Regions from separate parts of the Homo sapiens genome. Here all the other regions are linked to region 2. Evidence: fine-mapped expression QTL. A gene starts in region 2. Each other region holds a variant in brackets. All regions are shown on one strand. Distances are between the middles of the regions.

Region 1 (8,270 bases), 61 kb after region 2:
GTGGCTAAACTCCTTTGAGTTAACAACCTCTGGGCGCGGTGGCTCACGCCTGTAATCCCAGCACTTTGGGAGGCCGAGGCGGGCGGATCAAGAACTCTGGAGTTAGAGACCAGCCTGACCAACATGGTGAAACCCCGTCTCTACTAAAAATTCAAAAATTAGCTGGGCGTGGTGGCGCACGCCTGTAATCCCAGCTACTCGGGAGGCTGAGGCAGAGGAATCGCTTGAAACCGAGAGGCGGAGGTTGCAGCGAGCCGAGATCGCGCCACTGCACTCCAGCCTGGGCGGGCGACAAAACGAGATTCCGTCTCAAAAAAACAACTTGTCTGCACCCCTGGTAATAACCTCTCACACCCTTCACAGTCATTTTACGCCCCTCCCCCCATTTTCTTTCTTTCTGTGTTCAAATTATAGTTGGAAGGAATAAAGCAGCTTCTTTCACGCCGACTTAACCTATTAGGAATACCATATAGTGTCTCCTATGGCAACCTCTATTTTGAGTCTAGATAAGAAATCCTCAAACATCTGGGTCTAAACTGTCGCGGGCATCAGCTATCTTCACGGATGGGAGGAAGGAACAATCAGACCCTTACCTGGTTCCTTCACTTAGGTACCATCTGGATGGGTTAAGGGAGGGAATGGGATGAGTACTCCGAAGTTGAGGTATTTGAGTTTCCATTGAGAAAAGGAAAACAATATACCCCAAAAGTCTTAGCAAAGTCCCACCAGACAATGAACAGAGCTACAAACAAGAAGGGCGGCGGACTAGAGGGTCCCACGCCGGCTTGGGAGAATGGGAAGCGGGAGCAAGAACTGGGCGTTACGGTAAGGAGGAGGAAAAGAAACTGGCCAGACGCAGCAGGGCAAGAATAAGGGGTGGGGACGCGAGGCAGAACCAGCCTTCGTCCCGGGGCCGGCTACCGGCAGGAAGGAGCCCGAGGCGGCGGATGCCTCCCGGGGGACTCTGGGGGAGGAGGCGGGCAGAGGTGAGCCCGAGGGCGGATGGCATCCGCCGCCTCCTTACCTTCGGGCATCTCGCGGTCGCTGATGTGCTGCAGGTGGTGGCCCTCGCCCTCTCCGAAATCCAACTCGGCAGGCTCCACCACAGCGGGCGCTACCGCCACCGCGTCCCCGGACACCGCCTCGTAGATGTCGGACGCGCAGTACAGCTCCGCCGACCCCGCGCGCCGGCCCAGCTTGGGGCTGGCATTGGGGGACACGCAACAGGTCAGCGTGTTCCCCATGGGAAGCCTCCGCTCCTCTCTGCCACCGCCTTCGCTCGCCCCCTACTCCGCCGCCCTCAACAGCCGCCCCCTCCCCCAACAATGGCGCGGCCGGCACCGGCAGCCCCGGGCTACGCTGGGGCTGCACCGCGCAAGCAGACGCCGCCTCGCCCGCGGTTCGCCCGCCCGCCCCGCGGCCCGGCCCCGGGCAGGGCTCGGGCCTCGGCCGCACCCCCACCGCCGCGCTGCCGCCGCCTCCCTTAAGCTGACTCGTCTGCGAGGGCGGTGACCAGCCCGGCTTATTTAAAAGGGGTGGGGAACCCAACAAGCGCTGTGAAGCACAGCCACTGCCGGGAGAGAGCGCGGCTGGAGCTCCTCCTCCTTCCGCCGCCGCCTACCGACTGAAGGCCGCTGGCCCTGGCCGGTGCCTGCCAACCGGAACGCGACCTGCGGTCACCTGGTTAGGAGGAACCAATCATGGTCAGAGTTCCCCCTCCGGCGCCCGCCTCGAAGCCAGGCACGTGACCTGCTGCCCCGCCCCCGCCTGGCAGCTGCCCAGCCCCTCACGCCGCTATCCCAGACTCGGGTTTTCATTCATCGCTGGCTGCTGGGAGCTTTCCGGTCCTACTGGAAGCGCACGGGCATTTGTAACTGGAAGCTGTGTCAATGATCTCTGTAGAAAGCCGTTATTAGTAAAGAGTTCGCTCCATTAGCAACTCTTCTTCCGAGTCTGACAGCTTTCGTTTGCTCACTAAACTTGGTTACACCCAAATTGTTAACTGTTTTTGTAACTCAGTGCTCCGCTCCTGTCTTCCAATGAGCGTTAGTTTTCACCTGCAACGTGATCATAGCAACCCTGGGGCCCTGGTCCTACTCTCCATAAAGAGTTGTGGCTGTGGGTCTTGAATGAGACTCGAGGACACGTCACCCTTCCACTTCCTCATCCATAAAATAGGGACCTAACTCGTCCCTGCCAACTCTGAAATGCTGGGACTCGCCAACTCCCTTTTCTTGCCTGTTTCTCTCCTCTAGGCAGGGACTTCCAGGTTTCTCTTCTTGTACTAAAAACAGCACAGAAAGCACGATTTTCTCACGCAAAACTGAGAACCATGCAGTGGGGCACCACAGTCTTGATTCCATGAAGATGAATAGTTACCATTTGGCAAGCACTATGTGCCAGACAGTGTTCCAACTGTGGTATATTTATTTAACCCTTAAAAACAATCCCGGCCGGGCGCGGTGGCTCATGCCTGTAATCCCAACACTTTGGGAGGCCGAGGCGGGCGGATCACCAGGTCAGGAGATCCAGACCATCCTGGCTAACACGGTGAAATCCCGTCTCTACTAAAAATACAAAAAATTAGCCGGGCATGGTGGCACGCGCCCGTATTCCCAGCTACTCGGGAGGCTGAGGCAGGAGAATCACTTGAACCCGGGAGGCAGAGGTTGCCGTAAGCCGAGATCGCGCCATTGCACTCCAGCCTGGGCGACCTAGGCTCCGTTTCAAAAAAATAAAACATAAAAATAAAAATAAATAAACAAATATATATATATACACACAATGTCACTTCCTCCCTAAGCTTGATTTCTACCTTTATTTTCTGATCATCATGATCAGGGACCCTCACCCTGAGCAGTCATGTAAGCTTGCGGAAGTAACTTAACTTCTGCGTCCCAATTTCTTCTATAAAACCTGCAAAATGGGATTGTTTTTTTTTTGTTTTTTTTTTTTTGAGACGGAGTTTTGCTCTTGTTGGGCGCGGTGGCTCACGTCTGTAATCCCAGCACTTAGAGAGGCAGAGGCGGGTGAATTGCTTGAGGTCAGGAGTTCAAGACCAGCCTGACCAACATGGAGAAACCCCGTCTCTACTAAAAACACAAAAATTAGCCAGGCATGGTGGCGTCCACCCATAGTCCCAGCTACTAGGGAGGCTGAGGCAGGAGAATCTCCTGAACCTGGGAGGCAGAGATTGCAGTGAGCCAAGATCAGTCCACTGCACTCCAGCCTGGGCGACAGAGCAAGACTCCGTCTCAAAGAAAAAAAAAATTGTCTGAAACCCTAGGAATGTCATTAGATACCATTTTGGATGATTCTTGTAGACTTGAGACGATGCCTATTTTAAGGTACAAAATAATGCCTGCATTTAACAACAGACATACACAAAAATAGATATCTACGACCTTGAAAACTGAAGAATTTAAAACTTGCTAACCAGGAAGATATTGGGAAGCATTGTTACGGAAATAGATTTTAAAACATTTTGAATGAAGGGAATATTAGAGAGAATTAAGAAAAAAAAATTCTGTAACAGTGGCAAGCCTGGGAGAGCAAAGGGAAGCAAGTAGGAGGAATGTGCTTTGAATTAAGCAAGAGTTTGATTCTGTGAAAGAAGCTGAGACTTTATATAGGTCCAGAGTTAACTCATACGTTCACTATCCATTCAATACCTGAGCTCTTAGCACATGTCACATACTTTTTAAGTGCTGGGGATGTTGCTTTCACCAAGATAAAAAAAGGCTCCTGTTCCTGCAAAACTTCCAGTAAGGGAGTCAACAGACAACATTGGCCATCACCTCCACCTTCATGGCCTAGGATGGCTATTGATCTCCAGCTATTGGGTCTTCATTCCAGACAGCAGGGTGGAGGAAGGAAAAAGAAAGAAAAAATTTGGGGGCCGGGCATGGTGGCTCACACCTGTAATCCCAGCACTTTGGGAGGTTGAGCGGGGGGTGGATCACCTGAGGTCAGGAGATCGAGACCAGCCTGGCCAACGTGGCAAAACCCTGTCTCCATTAAAAACACAAAAAAAAAGGCTGGGCACGGTGGCTCACACCTGTAATCCCAGCATTTTGGGAGGTCCGAGGCAAGCGGATCATGAGGTCAGGAGTTCAAGACCAGCCTGGCAAACATGATCAAACCTTGTCTGTACTAAAAATACAAAAATTAGCTGGGCATGGTGGTGCCTGCCTATAATTCCAGCTACTCAGGAGGCTGAGGCAGGAGAATTGCTTGAACCAGGACCATGGAGGCGGAGGATGCAGTGAGCCAAGATCACACCTCTGCACTCTAGCCTGGGCTGCATAGCAAAACTCCGTCTCCAAAAAAAATGCAAAAAAATTAGCCGGACATGGTGGCAGCTGTAGTCCCAGCTACTCGGGAGGCTGAGGCAGGAGAATCACTTGAACCCAGGAGGTGGAAGTTGCAGCAAGCCAAGATGGTGCCACTGCACTCCAGCCTGGGTGACAGAGTGAGACTCTGTCTCAAAAAAAAAAAAAAAAAAGAGAAAAGAAAGAAAAAATTTTGGAAGGCCCATATAGCACAGTGCTTACAAATCATTGGCTTAAAGCTTAGTCACATAGCCATACCTAGCTGCAGGGAAGGCTCAAAAAAAAAAAACAATAGTCATATAGCTAGGGTGACTAATACAAAAGGAAGAAACGGATATTGGAAGGCAACTAGCACTCTCTGCCACATTCTGTAAGGAAAAATTAAGGAAGTTTCTGTTTAAAACCAGAATAACAACAGGCCTGGCATGGT[G/A]GCTCATGCCTGTAATCCCAGCTCTTTGGGAGGCCAAGGCGGGTGGATCACAAGGTCAAGAGTTTGAGACCAGCTTGGCCAGCATGGTGATATCCCGTCTCTATTAAAAATACAAAAAAATTAGCTGAGCATGGTGGCACGTGCCTGTAGTCCCAGCTACTTGGGAGGCTGAGGCAGGAGAATTGCTTGAGCCCAGGAGGCGGAGGTTGCAATAAGCCAAGATCACACCATTGCACTCCAGCCTGGGCAACAGAGAGAGACTCCGTCTCAAAAAAAAAAAAAAAAAAAAAAAAAAGCGAGAAAGAATAATAGCAATAAAATTTCATAGCCCTTTGCAAGAGTATGTGAAAAACAAGGAATTTGTAATGATCTTTTCTTAAGCTAAGAAGACAGAAAAAGTACAGAGAGGATTAAACTATAGAATGAGACTTTAGGTTAGATGCAAGAACAATTTTATGACAGTCAAGAGATCAGGAATATACAGTTTATTGTGTGTGTGTTGTGACTAATTGGTTCCATCTCAGGTATCATAACTAGTTGTTCTAATATAATAGGATTTTGTGTGTAAGTCATATATACATTTTTTTTCTCAGCAGAGGGTCTATAGTTTTCATCATACCCTCAAAGGTAGCTCTTGGCAAAAATTTTAAGAATTACTGTTATGCCTAATATGATGTGGAACAGCTCAACTTCTCTCATTCCTGATTTCAAAAAATTCCAATCTGGATTTTTCAGTAAATTCGTCATACGATGGTGCTGGTACCTCTAATTTAGTAAACTGCCCTTCTTCCACTTATCTCTTCACTTATCTCTTTTCACTCCTTCTGAACTATTCCCCTGCCTTCTCTCTTCTACACCATGTAGATTTGTTTCTGCCAAGTGAGTCAGTTGAGATGAGAAAGCTAATTTATGAGAAATGATGCTCTGAAAAAAAAAACGAGAAGGGTGTTAGTTTGCCATATCACCAGGGCAGATAATGCTCATTGGACAGGTCAGTTCTTGCCCCAAATTTTCACTGTGATTACAGTTCCAAACATCAGGGTATTTTATGAGACAAATTCTAGGAAGGGCTTGCAGTTTTAAGAGAGACTAGGAGCTTCCTTTTGCCTTCCTGGGCTCTTTTCTCCTCCTTATAAACTGGTGTATTTGCTTCCAGTTTCATTTGCCTAGGTGCTGCAAAAGGTCTAAAATCTTACCCAGCCTTTTCAGCCCACTGCTAGACTTCCTCAGATCACCTCCTAGTGGGGGTGGAAGATCCTTTTTTTTTTTTTTTCCGGAAGTGTCTGTTCAGGCTCCTGGTTTTCTAAGCAAATGCCTGCTCCACTCCCAGTTCCAATGACTATAACAACATGTTGTTTGCAGTTACTTAGTTTTATAAGAGAGCTGCCATCTACACTTGCTCAGGAAATAAACTTACTACAAAATTAATCTGGGAACAACACAAGTATAAATAAATAAACTAGCCAGGTCTGGTGGCTCATGCCTGTAATCCCAGCACTTTGAGAGGCCGAGGCGGCGGACCACCTGAGGTCAGGAGTTTGAGACCAGCCTGGCCATCATGGAGAAACCCCATCTCTACTAAAAATACAGAAATTACCTGGACATGGTGGTAGACGCCTGTAATTCCAGCTGAGGCAGGAGAATCTCTTGAACTCGGGAGGCGGAGTTCAAGTGAGCCAAGATAGCGCCACTGCACTTTAGCCTGGGGGACAGAGCAAAAATTTTTTTTTTTTGAGACAGGGTTTTGCTCTTGTTGCCCAGACTGGAGTGCAATGGCACGATCTCGGCTCACTGCAACCTCCGCCTCCCAGGTTCAAGCGATTCTCCTGCCTCAGCCTCCTGAGTAGCTGGGATTACAGGCATGTGCCACCATACCCGGCTAATTTTTTGTATTTTTTTAGTAGAGACGGGGTTTCACCATGTTGGCCAGGCTGGTCTCGAACCCCTGACCTCAGGTGATCCACCCACCTCAGCCTCCCAAAGTGCTGGGATTATAGGCGTGAGCCACTACACCCGGCCAGCTGGAACCATTTTCTTGCAATGGCTTAACACATTCCCACCAGGTTATTCTAGTAGCCTTTTTGACAGGTACCTTCTCAAATCAAGCTGACATTAGAAAGACAAAACTGGAGGAGGAGGAGGAATTGCATTAAACTTGACAGCAGGGAAAAGTTTGAGGAAGTCTTTTGAACCAGATTTGTCCCCTAGAAACAAAGCTCATAGATTTTAGGACGTCATCTTTTTCTCATGATGGCTCTATTGCCCTATTGTTAAGACAACTCTATTTTTATCCTCACAGCATGCAGTCTACCCTTAAGTACCTCTAGAAATTTTCTATCAGAAGGGATTAGGACAGCAATCTGGATGGATATAGGGCCCAGGAAACTAGTCTTAAGCGATATGTTTGTATAGAAAGCACATTAAAACAAATGAACAAACAAAATACCTACTTAGATTGAATTTTATTGGGAATAGGTCCTTGTCTCCTGTGCTGAGCAGACCTTGCTTCTATAGGGTGCTTGTTTGATGAGTCTACATTGAATAATGCCACACACTCCATGAGCTGTTTCTTTTCAACACACAGATGAAATAGAATACATTTTTTTTTTTGGATGGAGTCTCACTCTGTCGCCCAGGCTGGAGTACAATGGCACAATCTTGGCTCATTGCAACCTCCGCCTCCTGGGTTCAAGCAATTCTCTTGCCTCAGCCTCCCGAGTAGCTGGGACTACAGGTGTGTGCCACCACGCCCAGCTAACTTTTTTGTACTTTTTAGTAGAGATGGGGTTTCACCATATTGGTCAGGCTCGTCTCGAACTCCTGACCTCAATTGATCCACGCACCTCTGCCTCCCAAAGTGCTGGAATTACAGGCATGAGCCACCGCACCCGGCCATGAATGCTCTTATTAAAAAAAAATTCTGCCCAGCACTTTGGGAGGCCGAGGCGGGCGGATCACAAGGTCAGGAGATCGAGACCATCCTGGCTAACACGGTGAAACCCCGTCTCTACTAAAAAGTACAAAAAATTAGCTGGGCGCAGTGGTGGGCGCCTGTAGTCCCAGCTACTCGGGAGGCTGAGGCAGGAGAATGGCGTGAACCTGGGAGGCGGAGCTTGCAGTGAGCCAAGATCGCGCCACTGCACTCCAGCCTGGGTGACAGAGCGAGACTCTGTCTCAAAAAAAAAAAAAAAAAAAAAAATTCTGGTTATGTAATCAATGCTTTGCTCAGGAAAGAAAAAGAAAAACTCTGAGCTCACAGGAGCAATTGAAGCTAGAGTGTCCAAACTGGACCTGTCCTGTTCTTTGCAGCCATAGTGTTAGCTTCAAGATCTAAAGAGTTGGGAACTCAGTAGCTGCCCTGCTCTGGCCATCTGATAAACCTCTATTCAGTCTTTGAGCCTCAGAGTGCCTATGAATTTCTTTGATTCCCTCAAGGCTGTGAGATTCTGCATCTTCAAAGCAATCAGTTCCTTCTCCAAACCCTTACTATAGAGCAACATTGTATTACA
Region 2 (8,000 bases):
ACAAATAACAATTGTATATATTTATGATGTACCACATGATGTTCTGACATATGTATACATTCTAGAATGGGTAAATTGAGCTAATTAACATATGCATTACCTCTACATATTTTTCATTATTTTTGTGTGGTGAGAACACTTAAAATCTACTCTCTTAGCAATTTTCATTTACAGTATGTTGTTACTGAACTGTCATCATCACGGTGTGTGAAAGTTTTTGACTCCATAGACTAAATAAATAACTTCAAGCAAGTCATCAAAGTCATTATAGCACCAGTTTCTTCATCTGAGGATTAAACGACGTCTAGCACCCTGCCTAATACATGTTAAACAGCCAGCATATTTTAAAGTGCCTTCAAAATATAGACAAAAAGCAACACAATACAATACAAAAACATATACGATATAAAATGTCTTGCTCTCTCCTTTTTTTTTTTTTTTTTTTTTTTTTTAGAGATGAGGTCTCACTATATTGCCAAGGCTCGTCTTGAACTCCTGGGCCCTAGTGATCTTCCTGCCTCAGCTTCCCAAAGCGTTGAAATTACTGGCATGAGCCACCTTGCCCAGCTGAAATAAGTTTCTTTCCATAAAGTTCTCTGCTATCACTATTATTATTAGAGATCTCCAAGTAAAATTAAGATTTTGCTGTTGATGAAGAAAAGGTTTACAAACCAGTAGATAACATTGTTTTCTTCAGAACCTTTACTGGAAAAGGGTCCTGATTCAGACCCCAAGAGAGGGTTTTTGGATCTCATGCAAGAAAGAATTCCGGGCGAATCCATAGAGTAAAGTGAAAGCAAGTTTGGTAAGAAAGGGCCGAGCGAGGTGGTTCATGCTTGTAATCCAGCACCTTGAGAGTCCGACCGAGGCGGGCGGATCACTTGAGGCCAGGAGTTCCAGACCAGCCTGGTGAACATGGCGAAACCCCGACTCTACTAAAAATGCAAAAAATAGCAGGGTGTTGTGGCGTAGGCCTGTAATCCCAGCTTCCTGGGAGGCTGAGGCACAAGAATTGCTTGAACCTAGGAGGCAGAGGTTGCAGTGAGACGAGCTTGCACCCCCACTGCACTCCAGCCTGGGCGTCAGAGCAAGACTGTCAAAAAAAAAAAAAAAAAAAAAAAAAAAGAAGGAAAGGAATAAAGAATGGCTACTCCATAGACAGAGCAGCGGCATGGGCCGCCGGTTGCCCATTTTTATGGTTATTTCTTGATCATATGCTAAACAAAGGGTGGATTATTCATGAGTTTCCGGGAAAGGGGCGGGCAATTCCCGGAACTGAGGGTTCCTCCCCCTCTTAGACCATACAGGGTAACTTCCTGACGGTTGCCATGGCATCTGTAAAATGTAAACTGCTTTGGCATTGGTGGGAGTGTCTTTTAGCATGCTAATGTATTATAATTAAGTTACAATAAGCAGTGAGGACGACCAGAGGTCACTCTCCTGGCCATCTTGGTTTTGCTGGGTTTTTGCCGGCTTCTTTACTGCGCCCTGTTTTATCAGCAAGGTCTTTATGGCCTGTATCTTGTGCTGACCTCCTATCTCACCCTGTTGACTTAGAATGTCTTCACCTCCTGGGAATGCAGCCCAGTAGGTCTCAGCCTTATTTTACCCAGTCCCTATCCAAGATGGAGTCGCTCTGGTTCAAATGCCTCTGACAGAACCGTGTGAAATAACACAAATATTCTGGCTAAATTCCAGTGTGAGTGATTAACATTCTCCAACTTCAAATAATTTTTATTATTAGCCAACACTTGTCCATCCCCAGTAATACACACGTTGCATAAAGAGCACAGAATGAGATGGGCCTCCCTTGGCATGTTCATAGTCTGCACATACTTTCCACTGAGGGCTTCCCTTTCTTGCTCACTGCTATGCCCACAGCTTTTCAACTCCCACTATTTTCAACCCTGGGATGCTTCCTGACCCAGAGTGGCAAGTAATTCCAAAACACAAGAGATAAAATATGAACACCTGTAGAATTCCAGAGAAAGAAAGATGTAAGGTATATTTATTCATTTATTTAATTATGTATTTTAGAGTTGGGGGTCTTGCTATGTTGCTCAGGCTGGTCTGCAAACTCCTGGGTTCAAGCCATCCTCCCACCTCAGCCTCCCAAAGTGTTAGGATTACAGGCGTGAGCTATGGCGCCCGGCCTTTTAAACGTTTATTAATAGTTTTGATATCCGCGAAGTGATTGATATTTGTTCCTTTTTAACTTGGAGGCTGGGATTAACACACGTGTTCTTCATTATTGCCCACAAAGCGTTGTTGATACGCAGGAGGGGAGTGGCACTTCCGCAATTTATTCTTCCAACCTGTGCCAATGGGATCCAGCACAGGAGATGGACAGTAACCCGCGGTTGATCTGGATCTAGTCCAGTTAGTCCAGTCCCTATCCCTTCAAGTGTCCCCAGGCCCTCTTGCCTATTTTCGCCCTTTGCCCAGTGGAAGGAAAAGTTTGGGGAGAAGGAAAAAATTTAAACCCTCTTCCTAGGCGTGTGAATGTATTTCAAGTATGCTAAATACCTCAGTCTTCCAATCTAATTACAACACATAGAAAAGAGGCATTTTTAGGACATTTAAAACTTGTAGCATAATTGCGCAACTGAAGAGCGCCGCCGTGTCCCCGCCATCGGTGCGCCCTCCGACCCCCCGCGGCGCGCAAGTGCGCGGCTTAGCAGCAGGCAGCCGGGGACGGAAGGGCACGGGGAGGCCGGCGCCCTGCCCAGCACAGAACCCTGGGTCGGTATCGCTTCTCTCTGCGGGCGACTTCGGAACTGCCTGGGATTATAAACCTCGACCAATAAAGGACTCACATCTTTCTGGGTCTTCTAAAGGCAGAAAGAAATCCATTTTCTTGTCACAACAAGATTTTGTTAAGAGATGCAAAAGTAAAGGTCGAAGCCAGGGAGGCTGCGATAGTATGGGGGGAGGGGCGGCTACGATGGTGAGTGCCGCTGACCAACTACCTGGGTTCGAATCCCAGGGTTGCCATTTGGGCGGCTACTATGTGCCAGGTGATCGGAATACGGAGGTGAACTTGCTTGCCGAGGTCGCCCTTTCTTGGGGGAACTATGATTAGCTCGGTTGCCTTGGCCAAGTCTCAGTCTCGGTTTCTTCACCTGTAGGAAGTACCTGCCTCAGAATTGTTGTAAGGAGTGAGATCTTGTCTTAAGATGTAAACGGGCCGGGCGCGGTGGCTCACACCTGTAATCCCAGCATTTTGGGAGGCCGAGGCGGGCAGATCACGGTGTCAGGAGTTCGAGAACAGCCTTACATGGTGAAAGCCCGTCTCTACCAAAAATACAAAAATTAGCTGGGCGTGGTGGCGGGCGCCAGTAATCCCAGCTACGCAGGAGGCTGAGGCAGGATAATCGCTTGAACCCGGGAGACAGAGGTTGCAGTGAGCCGAGATCGCGCCACTGCACTCCAGCCTGGGAGACAGAACAACTCGTCTCAAAAAAAAAAAAAAAAAAAAAGGATGTAACCGATTAACACTTTGTTGGGCACACAGTAAAGGGCTCAGTAAGTATCCTCTCTTCTTTCACACAGTTCCAAGACAGCTCGGAAGGGAGACAGCCACGCCTAAGAGTGATTCCTTGAGCAGTTCTTTCAAAGAAGCACTGAACTCTGTAAGGACGCTTAGCTGCAGGCAGAAAGGGCAGGGGCCCTGGGAGCAAAGGTGCATAAGCCAGGAAGTTACAGGAGCGAGTCCTGCACCCAGGGCGCGGGCAGAGAACTCCGGAGGGACTTCTGGCAAGGGCTTCCCGCCCGGGTGCCCAGAGCGGCATGATTAGCATTCGCCCCGCCCCCATCTCCTCCAGGCCCGCGATTGGTCAGCGCTCCTTGGCTGCCCGCTCCTGGCGGGGCCAGAGGGCGCCGGGGGAAAGGCCGAGCCCGCGGGGCAGTGGGCGGGGACGCGCGGAGAGCTTGGCGAGGCGGCCCACCAACCGCGCCCGGGCCTGAGGGGGCGGAGCCGGGGCGGGGCTTCCCGGCGGGCATTAGAAGCAGGTGACCCGGGCGGGGCGGGAGAGGGCAGCCAGCCTGCGGCCGTGAGTCCGCTGTGGTCGCCGCCGCGCGCGGTTCCGTGCTCGCCAGAGGTGGGCGAAAGGGTGCGAGAGCGCGGGGGAGGAGCCGAGCAGGGCACGTCCCGAGAGCGTCGCCACCGCCCCCAGGAGTCCACTGGAGCGCGGAGCCCCCTGCAGGGGAGGAGGCGAGCGGCGGGCGGGACGCGGCGGCCGGCGCTCACCATGCAGTCCCGGCCTGGCCAGCGCCGGCTGCTCGCGGTGCTGTGAGGCGGCGGGGTCCCACGGCCCCCGCCTCCCGCCTTCCTCCCGCCCAGGTGCTGCCAGGCGCGCTCGCCCTCCGTCCGGCTCCCGGCCCCGGGGAGAACGCACGGCCTGCCCCTGCCCGGCTCCGTCTGGATCATGCGGGGGGCTCCCGAGGAGGAGAGGGCGAGTGACCGGCCTGCGCCGCCCCTGTTCTGGGGGCGCCCCCCACTCTGAGTCGCCCCCACCTGCTGCCATGTGCCGCTGCCACGGGTACCCAGCCTGTCGCTAAACTTTCCGGGCGCCAGCCCGGCTCTGAGTCGCGCTTCTCAGCGGAGTGACCCAGGGACGGAGGACCCAGGCTGGCTGGGGACTGTCTGCTCTTCTCGGCGGGATCCGTGGAGGTGAGAACCTTCCCTTTCTCCCTGTTCTTCTCCCGTTTCCTGTGCCCTTTTCCGGGAAGCTGAGGGTTCTGGTCTCCGGGCACTGCCTGAAGGGCCCAGCTTGGAAAGAGAGGGTGGGGGAGTCGGTAGTTTGGTTACAGGAGGCGGAGCGGGGAGGAAAGGAAAGGGGTTAACTTAAGAGATTTGGAGACAGCTCGCGGGGACCGAACTGTTGACGCCTCTCCAACAGGGAGTGGTTGCAATCTTTCTTCTCCCCCTTCTTTTTTAAAGAGTCCTTTCCCTGGAATCCGAGCCCTAACCGTCTCTCCCCAGCCCTATCCGGCGAGGAGCGGAGCGCTGCCAGCGGAGGCAGCGCCTTCCCGAAGCAGTTTATCTTTGGACGGTTTTCTTTAAAGGAAAAAGCAACCAACAGGTTGCCAGCCCCGGCGCCACACACGAGACGCCGGAGGGAGAAGCCCCGGCCCGGATTCCTCTGCCTGTGTGCGTCCCTCGCGGGCTGCTGGAGGCGAGGGGAGGGAGGGGGCGATGGCTCGGCCTGACCCATCCGCGCCGCCCTCGCTGTTGCTGCTGCTCCTAGCGCAGCTGGTGGGCCGGGCGGCCGCCGCGTCCAAGGCCCCGGTGTGCCAGGAAATCACGGTGCCCATGTGCCGCGGCATCGGCTACAACCTGACGCACATGCCCAACCAGTTCAACCACGACACGCAGGACGAGGCGGGCCTGGAGGTGCACCAGTTCTGGCCGCTGGTGGAGATCCAATGCTCGCCGGACCTGCGCTTCTTCCTATGCTCTATGTACACGCCCATCTGTCTGCCCGACTACCACAAGCCGCTGCCGCCCTGCCGCTCGGTGTGCGAGCGCGCCAAGGCCGGCTGCTCGCCGCTGATGCGCCAGTACGGCTTCGCCTGGCCCGAGCGCATGAGCTGCGACCGCCTCCCGGTGCTGGGCCGCGACGCCGAGGTCCTCTGCATGGATTACAACCGCAGCGAGGCCACCACGGCGCCCCCCAGGCCTTTCCCAGCCAAGCCCACCCTTCCAGGCCCGCCAGGGGCGCCGGCCTCGGGGGGCGAATGCCCCGCTGGGGGCCCGTTCGTGTGCAAGTGTCGCGAGCCCTTCGTGCCCATTCTGAAGGAGTCACACCCGCTCTACAACAAGGTGCGGACGGGCCAGGTGCCCAACTGCGCGGTACCCTGCTACCAGCCGTCCTTCAGTGCCGACGAGCGCACGTTCGCCACCTTCTGGATAGGCCTGTGGTCGGTGCTGTGCTTCATCTCCACGTCCACCACAGTGGCCACCTTCCTCATCGACATGGAACGCTTCCGCTATCCTGAGCGCCCCATCATCTTCCTGTCAGCCTGCTACCTGTGCGTGTCGCTGGGCTTCCTGGTGCGTCTGGTCGTGGGCCATGCCAGCGTGGCCTGCAGCCGCGAGCACAACCACATCCACTACGAGACCACGGGCCCTGCACTGTGCACCATCGTCTTCCTCCTGGTCTACTTCTTCGGCATGGCCAGCTCCATCTGGTGGGTCATCCTGTCGCTCACCTGGTTCCTGGCCGCCGGCATGAAGTGGGGCAACGAGGCCATCGCGGGCTACGCGCAGTACTTCCACCTGGCTGCGTGGCTCATCCCCAGCGTCAAGTCCATCACGGCACTGGCGCTGAGCTCCGTGGACGGGGACCCAGTGGCCGGCATCTGCTACGTGGGCAACCAGAACCTGAACTCGCTGCGCGGCTTCGTGCTGGGCCCGCTGGTGCTCTACCTGCTGGTGGGCACGCTCTTCCTGCTGGCGGGCTTCGTGTCGCTCTTCCGCATCCGCAGCGTCATCAAGCAGGGCGGCACCAAGACGGACAAGCTGGAGAAGCTCATGATCCGCATCGGCATCTTCACGCTGCTCTACACGGTCCCCGCCAGCATTGTGGTGGCCTGCTACCTGTACGAGCAGCACTACCGCGAGAGCTGGGAGGCGGCGCTCACCTGCGCCTGCCCGGGCCACGACACCGGCCAGCCGCGCGCCAAGCCCGAGTACTGGGTGCTCATGCTCAAGTACTTCATGTGCCTGGTGGTGGGCATCACGTCGGGCGTCTGGATCTGGTCGGGCAAGACGGTGGAGTCGTGGCGGCGTTTCACCAGCCGCTGCTGCTGCCGCCCGCGGCGCGGCCACAAGAGCGGGGGCGCCATGGCCGCAGGGGACTACCCCGAGGCGAGCGCCGCGCTCACAGGCAGGACCGGGCCGCCGGGCCCCGCCGCCACCTACCACAAGCAGGTGTCCCTGTCGCACGTGTAGGAGGCTGCCGCCGAGGGACTCGGCCGGAGAGCTGAGGGGAGGGGGGCGTTTTGTTTGGTAGTTTTGCCAAGGTCACTTCCGTTTACCTTCATGGTGCTGTTGCCCCCTCCCGCGGCGACTTGGAGAGAGGGAAGAGGGGCGTTTTCGAGGAAGAACCTGTCCCAGGTCTTCTCCAAGGGGCCCAGCTCACGTGTATTCTATTTTGCGTTTCTTACTGCCTTCTTTATGGGAACCCTCTTTTTAATTTATATGTATTTTTCTTAATTTGTAACTTTGTTGCATTTTGGCAACAATTTACCTTTGCTTTGGGGGCTTTACAATCCTAAGGTTGGCGTTGTAATGAAGTTCCACTTGGTTCAGGTTTCTTTGAACTGTGTGGTCTCAATTGGGAAAATATATTTCCTATACGTGTGTCTTTAAAAAAAAATGTGAACAGTGAACGTTTCGGTTGCTGTGACTGGGAAGTTGTTGGGTGTGCTTTTTCAGCCAGCTTCTCCTTCCACTGCTTAAAGTGTCCATGATTCTTTAAGGTGAGCTGCAGTTTATAGCCCCAGGTCATACCTAGGAGGGGAGCATAATGAGCTCAGGGCCTCCCCAAAGTGACAAGGTTAGGGAGTGCTTAGCGGTTTTGTGTTCAGCCTTAGCTTTGTTTATAGAGGGAGGTTCAGTTTCTTTTCTGTAGTGCTTGTAATAATTCTCACTCCTAACAGCACCATCGTTGTGTCTTGAATAAGTTAGAGGTAGCATTATAGAGGATCTGGCATAAATATTTGCAGTAGTGAGAGCCTAAGCGATGGTGATTGGTGGAGCTTGAATTTTAGGCTGGTGAGATGGCAGCTTTGTGCCTGAGAGGTAGTGGGTGGTTCTTAAGCTTCAGTGATCCCCTTTTTTTTTTTTTTTTTTTTTTTTTAAGGAACTTGTGTTATAATTTTGGTAAAAGTATAAACCCACTCCCTCTGGACAATACTTAGCGACAGTTGCTAAAGGGGGCTCCTTTTTAAATGTAAGGACTGAAATGGATATACTTCTAATAAGTAAATTTCCA
Region 3 (8,270 bases), 160 kb before region 2:
TCTGTTTGCAGTGAGCTCTGAAGGTCACAGAAATCACCAATTTAGCCATCATTGACACTTAAAATCTCTCTGTAAAGCAGGATGTTTTGTTTTGGTGGTCATTCAAGTAATTAGATTTGATTTTGAGAGGATAGCTAGGCAATTGAAGATATTAGGTACACTCGCTTCATCCGTGTTGCACATGAGGAAAATCTCCTTTGTCAGACCACTCCTTCCCAAGTTCTTAGTGGACCAAGGAAGATTTTAAAGCAAAAGTGGACCTGGTGGATTTTATCTGGATCATCTCTCATTGGCATTAAGTAACTATATTCCATTTAGTCCAGTGTCTGGCTGTCTTTTCTCAGATATCAGGATTTAACTTAATTCTCCTAATTGTGAGGATCAATTCAGACCTATCAGTTTCCAAGACCAGACATCGTTCTGTTAGATCTGCCTGCTGTCCTTAATAGCAAGTACGTGACTGGCTTGAATAGCCATTTAAAAGAGTAAAAAAATGGTTTTGCAGAACAGAATGAAATCTGTCATCTTAAGCATTTCCTGGCCTGCCCTCTGGAGTATTAATAATCCTAATTATTTTTAAAGCAGGATTTCGTCTATTTTCTGGTGTTATACTGAAGATTGAATTGAGCTCCAAGATTAGGAAGCGCTAAACCCTATCCTCAATTTCTATAGCCATTTTCTAATAAAATCTCTTTGAAGATAACTTTCCCTATCCCCCTAATCAAAAATATCAAGCGTAGCAAAGAGATGTTAAGGAAATCAAACAACCCTAACTCTTCCAAATAGTTCCCCTTAGTTTTGTTTTAAAAAAATTTATTTGTATCCTAGCTTGAATATTCACATTCCATTTAGCTAGGGGTTTTCCATGTTACATAAACCATTTCCTATTTCTACATCTTGAGAGGTATTCAAGGCAAGCTCTACTGCCCTTGTGGAGCTGAGGAAAAGCTCACTGATGGGAAAAACCTCTTGATCAGAGTCATTTGGAGATTCTGAGAACAAATTGTAATTAAACTGAAGGTTTCCTAATTTCTCCTCCATTAGCCCACTGACTGTTTTAACAGGACTAAGAAGTATTACCGTTAGAATTGATTTTATTATGATTTTGGCTATGAATTTTTATGATAGAGATGGGAATAAACACAGGAAGGAAATGTTTTACCAAAGCAATAAGGTTATTTTACGGTGGTAAGATTATAGATATTTTTTCCTCTGTTGATCTTTATTCTCCAAATTTTCAGTAATGGGATTATATTACTTTTATAATTTTATAAATTTTAACTGTCATATTTTATTTAAGAAAATGTATATTAAAAGTTAACTTTTTTAATGCCTTGGAATTTTTTTTTTTTTTTTTAGAGACAGTGTCGTGCTCTGTTACCCAGGCTGGAGTGCAGTGGCATGACTGTAACTCACTGCAGCCTTGAACTCTGGCACTCAAGCATTCCTCCCACCCCAGCCTCCTGAGTAGTTGGGACTACAGGCGCACGCCACTACACCTGGCTAATTTTTAAATTAGTTTTTGGTAGAGACAAAGTCTTGCTATGTTGCCCAGGCTGGTCTCAAACTCCTGGCCTAAAGCAATCCTGCTGCCTCAGCCTCCCAAAGTGTTGGGATTATAGGCGTGAGCCACTGTGCCTGGACCAGAATTATAAATGTAAATGATTGTTCTGTCCTGTGATAGATAACTTGAGAGTTTAATGGGATAAGTGAGGCTGTTTTTCCCTAAATGCCTTGCACTGCTATATTTTATTCATTCTTCTTTTTTGAATACAGTATACTTTCAGAAAGTTCAAGGTTCAAAAAGTAAAAGGGGGCGTGCGTACATACATAAATAATCTCCTTTTTACTCACCCCATTCTTCTCAGAGGCAACCAAAACACTCCTTTCTCGTGTATCCTTCCAGAGATATTTTATGTACATGTATTTTTTCATACAAAAATGACAATATAGTATATACCCTGTGCTTAGAGAGCTTTCCATTTAGATAATAAAACTCTTCCTTGCATTTTTTAAAATATTTCATGAATTTTACATGCATATTTACACACACACACACACACACACACACACACACACACTAATTTATCTAACCAGTTCTTTTTTGGTGGACATTTAGATTTTTCCAGTCTTTTGCTATTATAGACAGTAATTCAATGAATAACTTTTTACATAATATTGAATATAATTTTTTTTCATTGATAAGCAAAACTATCTGTAGATAACTTCCTAGATATAGGCATGTACAATTTGTGAGTTTGATGGATAGTGCCAAGTTGCCCTCAATTAGGGTCGTATGCTCTTTGTTTTCACCTTGTAGCTTCCTGTAGGTGCCTCTCTTCCCCTGGTGCTAGGATGTCAGCTGTCATTTATGTTGTATCCATGCTGCCTCTAGCTATCTTTTCTTCTTTATGGACTCTAAATATGTTATGAACTTAGAAACAAATAACCAAGCTGTAGGAACTATGTCTAAAGCAAGAGTGTATGCTTCAAAGTTGTGGCCAGAGCATTGTAAATTATTCATTCATTTGTTCAACAAGTATTTATTGGATATTTATTGTGCTCACTGTTCTAGGCACTGGGGATATAGTTTCTGCCCTTATGGATGCTCTTATTCCAGTGAAAGGAGAAAGACAGTAAAAAAAATACACAAATAGACTGGGCGCAGTGGCTCGTGCCTATAATCCTAGTGCTTTTGGAGGCTGAAGCAGAAGGATTTGCTTGAGACCAGCTTGGGCAGCAGCAAGACCCTATCTCTACAAAAAATTTAAAAATTAACCAGGCCTTGTGTCATGCACACGTAGTCCTACCTAGCTACTCCAGAGGCTGAGGTGGGAGGATCCCTTGAGCTCAGAAGTTCGAAGTTACAGTGAACTATGATCATGCCACTGCATTCCAGCCAGCCTGGGTAACAGAGCAAAACCTTGTCTCTAAAATAGAATAAAATAAAATAAATTGCACAAATAAGTAACTTTTGTATAAATGAAATGTTATTGAACTTCAGTTTTATTTTAAAGTTAAAATCAAATGGGATCCTACATGTCAGTGTCCTGCTTAATTACATTATAGATTAGTCTTCATTTGTAGCCTACTTGCTGTAAGATGGAGAAGGGACAGGAAAACTCTTTTATGAAGTGATAAGCTGATAGAGTATGGTAACATTATTAAAAAATAAGAATTGTGAATATAAACAATGCTAAAAAGCACAGAGCAGAGTCTCCAGGGATCTGAGTTGTGGCTCTAATTCTACCATGACATGACCACAAATAAGTTACTTATGCTCTTTGTACTCAATTTTCTCTTCTATTAAATACAGGCAGTGGATTAGTTCAGTGTTTCTCAAAGTGTATTCCATGGAGCATTACCAAATTCTTTCGTGTTAGTAGGTGTTACGCAAAAAGGAGGGCCACAGCTAGGCCAGCTTTATGGGAATTGGAAAAGAGCCCCTCCAGAACACAGCTCAGCAAACTCACAGCTTAGCAAGAGGATGCAGCAAGGTAGAGAAAGACGCCCTTTCTTCTGGTTGGTGAGTGGGGGTCCGGGCTGGATCTTATCTCCCACACTCCCACCGCCCATGCATCATGTGCAGCACTCAACAGCTGCCCTGTCTGTAGTAAAATAGCTTTGAGAAGTGGCTGGGTTAAGCAGGTTTTCTTCGGTACAAGATGTCTCAGTTTTAATATGCAAACATGCTGTACTTTGAATCTCCAAGGAAACAAAGTGGTGTGTGGCATACATCTTATTGGACCTTAAAACGTCTTTTTTTGTGGGACTAGTGTTCCTTGGAACACAAGCTGAGAAAAATTGAATTAGATTATCTTTACTAGTCTTTGTTATTCTACAAGTCCTTCTTATTCGTGTTTTATTCTGATACATTTTCCTCCTTTAATAAAAACAAAGTCCACACTACCACCACCATAATACCATGTCGTCTCCAAATTGCTATCTATGGTTAAACATTCCCTTTGCCCCATTACGTTATCACCAGGGGCTATTTTTGTG[G/A]GGGAGCATACCAGAACACTCTCCCTCAGGATTACGCAAACCTGAACAACATTCAAGAACTTTGTTTTTAAGAAGTGGCTGTCACTAGCGTAACAAAAGTCGTATTATGTTCGAATCTATACTGATGACACTTAATAATGTTCAAATCAAGTGACATGTGTTTACTTATAAATGTATATGTGTAAATAGCAGATCTGATCATTGTTAGTTTGTAGCTAATCATAATGTGATTTTACCATTTTCTCCACCTCCTCCTGAATGTGAGGTAGGGGAGGAGGCCTCTTTCCTCTTGGATTCCTCCTTCTCATCTCTCTTGAATCATGTAGATGGCAGGGTTGTGAAGAAAGAATCAGTTCACAAACTGCAGCACAATCACTGTCACAGAGTTGAGTTCTTATAGCTTAAACTGTTCTGTTTATAAGCTACAAAAGCTATGGAAAGAAATTCGTTCATATGAATAGAAGGAATATAATTAATAAATATTAAATATTATTTGGTAAAATACTAATAGGTCAATACTAATACTAATGTGAATGGAGTGGTATCATGGAAAAGAGTGCCAGCCGAAACCATTCATTTGAGCTCATTCATCTGCACCTGACTATCAGCTGAATTTTTCTTTACATCAGAAATGGCAGCAGGCTTTTTAGGTTTTTCATAGTTTGGTTGGCAAGAAGTAGGACAGTAGCTCTTAGCTCTTAGTTGGAACATAGTCAGTGTTCACATATAATTCATGAAATATTTATATTAACAAAAAAACTTTTTCTCACATAAACTTTATCACCTAAGAATATCTTTGGCTTTTGTTCCTAAGTAACTTTTTTTTTAACATTTTTAATTCGAGTTGAGTTTGAGAGTACAATCCTCATGCCAGTGTGGAGGGTCATTTAGAACTTAGGAAATCAGTGGGGATACAATGCTCTATTTTGCAAAAATAGTAGGCCATGCCAGATTTTGAGTTCTCTCAAAAATTCCCTCACCGATTATTAGTGGCTGATTCTCAAAAATGAGTGCATGTGCTCAGCCTTGCTGCCAAAAATGGCTGAACGTGGTGGGGATTTGTTCATGTACTCAGGCAGCAGCGGTAGCGATGTGCACCATATGCCTACTGCTAGTAACAACTGGTGAAGGCAGCGCCTCCGACATGGTTGAAACGAGCTCTGTTTTTGTTTTTTGTAATTTCAGTTTATGAATACTGATGTCAGTGGCTGCTGTTCCATTTGTCTCACTGCTTTTACTTTCTCTGTAAAAGATTTTTTTCTTCCTTTCGGGCTTAAGTACCACCTGAAGAGAGAAGCCTTTTAAGGCCTGGGAGACTGGCCAGTGCCCTCTGTCGCTCTGTTCACCTACTAAAAGGTAGCATTGTTAACCTAATTCAGCAGGGCCCTGACTCCATATAAACACTGCTCAACAGAGCCAGAAAGACTAATTGAATTGTACAATACATCATTTTTCAGCAACAGTTTCAAGTGGGTTGTACTTCATTTCCCAAAACACCATCAGTCTTTTCCTCATTTTAAGATATTTAAATATCACAAATATTTAATCATGATAAATAAAATATTTAAACCCAAGTCTTTCTTTCCCACTGAACTGTGGGCTATTATACCTAAAGACAGGGCCATGTTTGTTTTATTCTCCACTGAATGCCTAATGCCTGCTACAGTATCTGGCATGTACCTGTGTCTATTAATAGATGCCTCAAAAATAAAAGTGAGGAATAACTGTTATTTCCAATCTGGTTAGATAGTTGAAGATTTTGGCTAATTCTAGGTGCCTTTTTGTGATTTTCAGAGACTGTAAACTTCTCTAATTCTGTAACTCTAACTCTGCAGGATGCTATAGGATCACACAACACAACAGGTACCTCAAAAATAATTGCTTATAAGGAAAAAAATTAGAAGTTTATTTTTTAAATGATGTATTTTTTTGCATTCCTATAAAGAACATAAACTTTGGTATAAGCTTTGCAATATAAGAAAATGATCATATTGAATTTTATGTTTATGTACGAGAAATTTATAATCAACATATAATAGCCATACATTTAATTATGACATATACATACAGAGGGGTTTTTATGTTTGTTTCTGCCTGTTGTACTCTATTCTGTCCCACATTTGTTCACCAAGTGAATTTCTGTTTATCTTCTACACCCAGATCCAAGTGCCACCTGCTTTGCCAACCCTCTCCCCACCAGGAGAGTTGATTTCTCCTTCCTCTAAGCTACCAGTGGGCCCCATCCATACCTCTTTTGTAGCAGATGACAGGGTACATGCTGCATGTTACATGTGGTTTTGTTTTAAATACTTGTCTCATACTACACAGTGAGCCACTTGAGGGAAGGAACTGTATCCTATATATCTTTATTAATATACTTCTAGCCTACCATATGAAACATAGATTTTTTTTTCTTTTTAATAAGCAAAGTTTTTTGTTTATTTTAATGTTGAATTCTAACCTTGCTCCTAGAGAGATTTTAATGGAAAGTTTTTAGAGAGGTTTTATCTTCCATAAATAGAAACTGAGCCAACTTTCTATGTATTAGTAGCCAATCTACATCTCACTGTCAGTGATTGGTATGTAGAGATTCTGAAAAATTACCCTCATGTTATGCATTATTTAAGCCACTCCCTCTGTATCTCTGAGACATTGTGTTTCCATGTACTATTTGTTTCTACTGATGACAATGACATTATAAAATGAACTTTCATAGTCTTGTGGATTACCGTGGATTACCACTCAAGGTGAATACAGAATTGGATGGATATATTGGCTGGAGTTAGCTGAAGTTCAAAGTTGTAATAAGAGCAACTCCTTTCTGGTCACTGAAGCAGTATATTTGAGCTTGTTTGCTAGTCAGTCAGATTATTCTGCAAATAATATCCTTTTATCCTTTTTGAATGTTGTAATATGTACATGATTTAGTCTTTTTATTTGTTTGTTTGTTTGTTAGATGGAGTCTCGCTCTGTTGCCCAGGCTGGAGTGCAGTGGCATGATCTGGGCACACTGCAACCCCCGCCTTCTGAGTTCAAGCAATTCTCCCGCCTTAACCTCCCAAGTAGCTGGGATTACAGGCATGTGCCACCACGCCTGGCTAATTTCTGTATTTTTAGTAGAGACGGGGTTTCGCCATGTCGGCCAGGCTGGTCTCAAATTCCTGACCTCAAGTGATCTGCCCGCCTCAGCCTCCCAAAGTGCTGTGATTACAGGCATGAGCCACCACACCCGGCCTTGATTTACCTATTTTTTAAGTGGCTACTTTTCAAAAGTGTTATGGAATATTCATACATATATATGCACATATAAATTTATGACGTTTTTAAAAATCAGCATTTGTGTTAAAACAGTCTTCTTAATTCCTTTTTTATTTTGAAATAATTGTGGATTCACAGGAAATTGCATAGACAATTCAGAGAGGTTCTGTGTACCTTTCACAGTTTCCTCCCTTGGCTACATCTTAGGCAACTAAGGTCCAATATCAAAAACAAAAACAGCAAGTTGACATTGGTATAATAAGTCAGTATAACGGCACCATACTGTGCCGTTCTGTCACATGTGTAGGTTCCTGTAATCACCACTGCAGTCAAGATACAGAATTAATAAATTCCTTCCTAGCTTACAGTTGAATGTCTGGAAGAGAGAGAAGTCAAAATTTACATTTAATTCAACTACAGACTTTTTCATTTGTCTGTATTGAGAAAATAATCGTGTTCCTTTGATATTTCAGCTATGGTTCCTAGTTTGAGCAGGTGTGGAGAGCCAGGTGCTTCTCCAGGACTGACTGACGACGCTTGTTTTGTAGGTGTCGAAGCAGGCCAAGGAGTTTCTGGAGTACGTGTACGAAGAGCCGCTCATCGACATCCAGCAGGAGAACGCCATGCTGTACCACCACGCAGAGCCGCTGGCCGCCGTGCTGCGGCTGCGGCAGCGGCTGAAGTCGCTCCGAGCCTATTTGTTCAGCTGCCGGGCAGCGGTGGCAGAGGATCTCCGCCGCAGGTAAGAGTCATAAATCTCAGACGGCTCCCGTTTGTTTTTCTTTCCCGCCCACGGAGGGTGGTGAGATTATCTCCAAAGGGCCTTTCCAGCACGGACCGCCTCTAATTTTGTGGCTCGCCCTCCGCCTCTCCACTGCCAGCCTCTCTCTGGGCTCATCTTTTTACTTTTTTTACTCCAAGGTCCCCATTTGGTTAAGCCAAGCAAAATGAAAATAACATTCACCGTTACTGAAGGCTTTCACCCATGGATCGAGTGCCCAGGACGGTGA

Alleles and levels. Alleles are on the strand shown, and positions count from the first base shown. SD is a standard deviation of normalised expression in the study named. Not every link is listed here.
As copies of G replace A in region 3, the expression in tibial artery of the gene that starts at base 4,031 in region 2 goes down (large effect, 0.81 SD a copy in GTEx).

The links.
Region 1: its variant is fine-mapped to the expression of FZD5 in whole blood (INTERVAL, PIP 0.90).
Region 3: its variant is fine-mapped to the expression of FZD5 in tibial artery (GTEx, PIP above 0.99).

Annotation. Positions count from the first base shown.
Region 1 is chr2:207,704,871-207,713,140 of GRCh38, reverse strand. CCNYL1 (cyclin Y like 1) reads right to left here and starts at 1,501. Exons shown (of 10, transcript NM_001330218.2): 1 at 1,025-1,501. The coding sequence starts at 1,244. RefSeq lists silencers at 678-837, 850-959, 1,380-1,829 and enhancers at 701-1,697, 2,050-2,099, 2,110-2,309. The variant G/A (reference allele first, on the strand shown) is at 4,762.
Region 2 is chr2:207,765,937-207,773,936 of GRCh38, reverse strand. FZD5 (frizzled class receptor 5) reads left to right here and starts at 4,031. Exons shown (of 2, transcript NM_003468.4): 1 at 4,031-4,672; 2 at 4,943-8,000. The coding sequence starts at 5,198. The coding sequence ends at 6,955. RefSeq lists silencers at 1,199-1,674, 3,731-4,410, 4,751-4,810, 5,221-5,280, 6,787-6,846 and enhancers at 2,146-2,966, 3,131-3,180, 5,638-6,195, 6,196-6,752.
Region 3 is chr2:207,930,658-207,938,927 of GRCh38, reverse strand. It overlaps PLEKHM3 (pleckstrin homology domain containing M3), which reads left to right. Exons shown (of 8, transcript NM_001080475.3): 5 at 7,809-8,002. Among named protein-coding and RNA genes, the nearest start is that of PLEKHM3, 91 kb to the left of the region's middle. The variant G/A (reference allele first, on the strand shown) is at 4,003.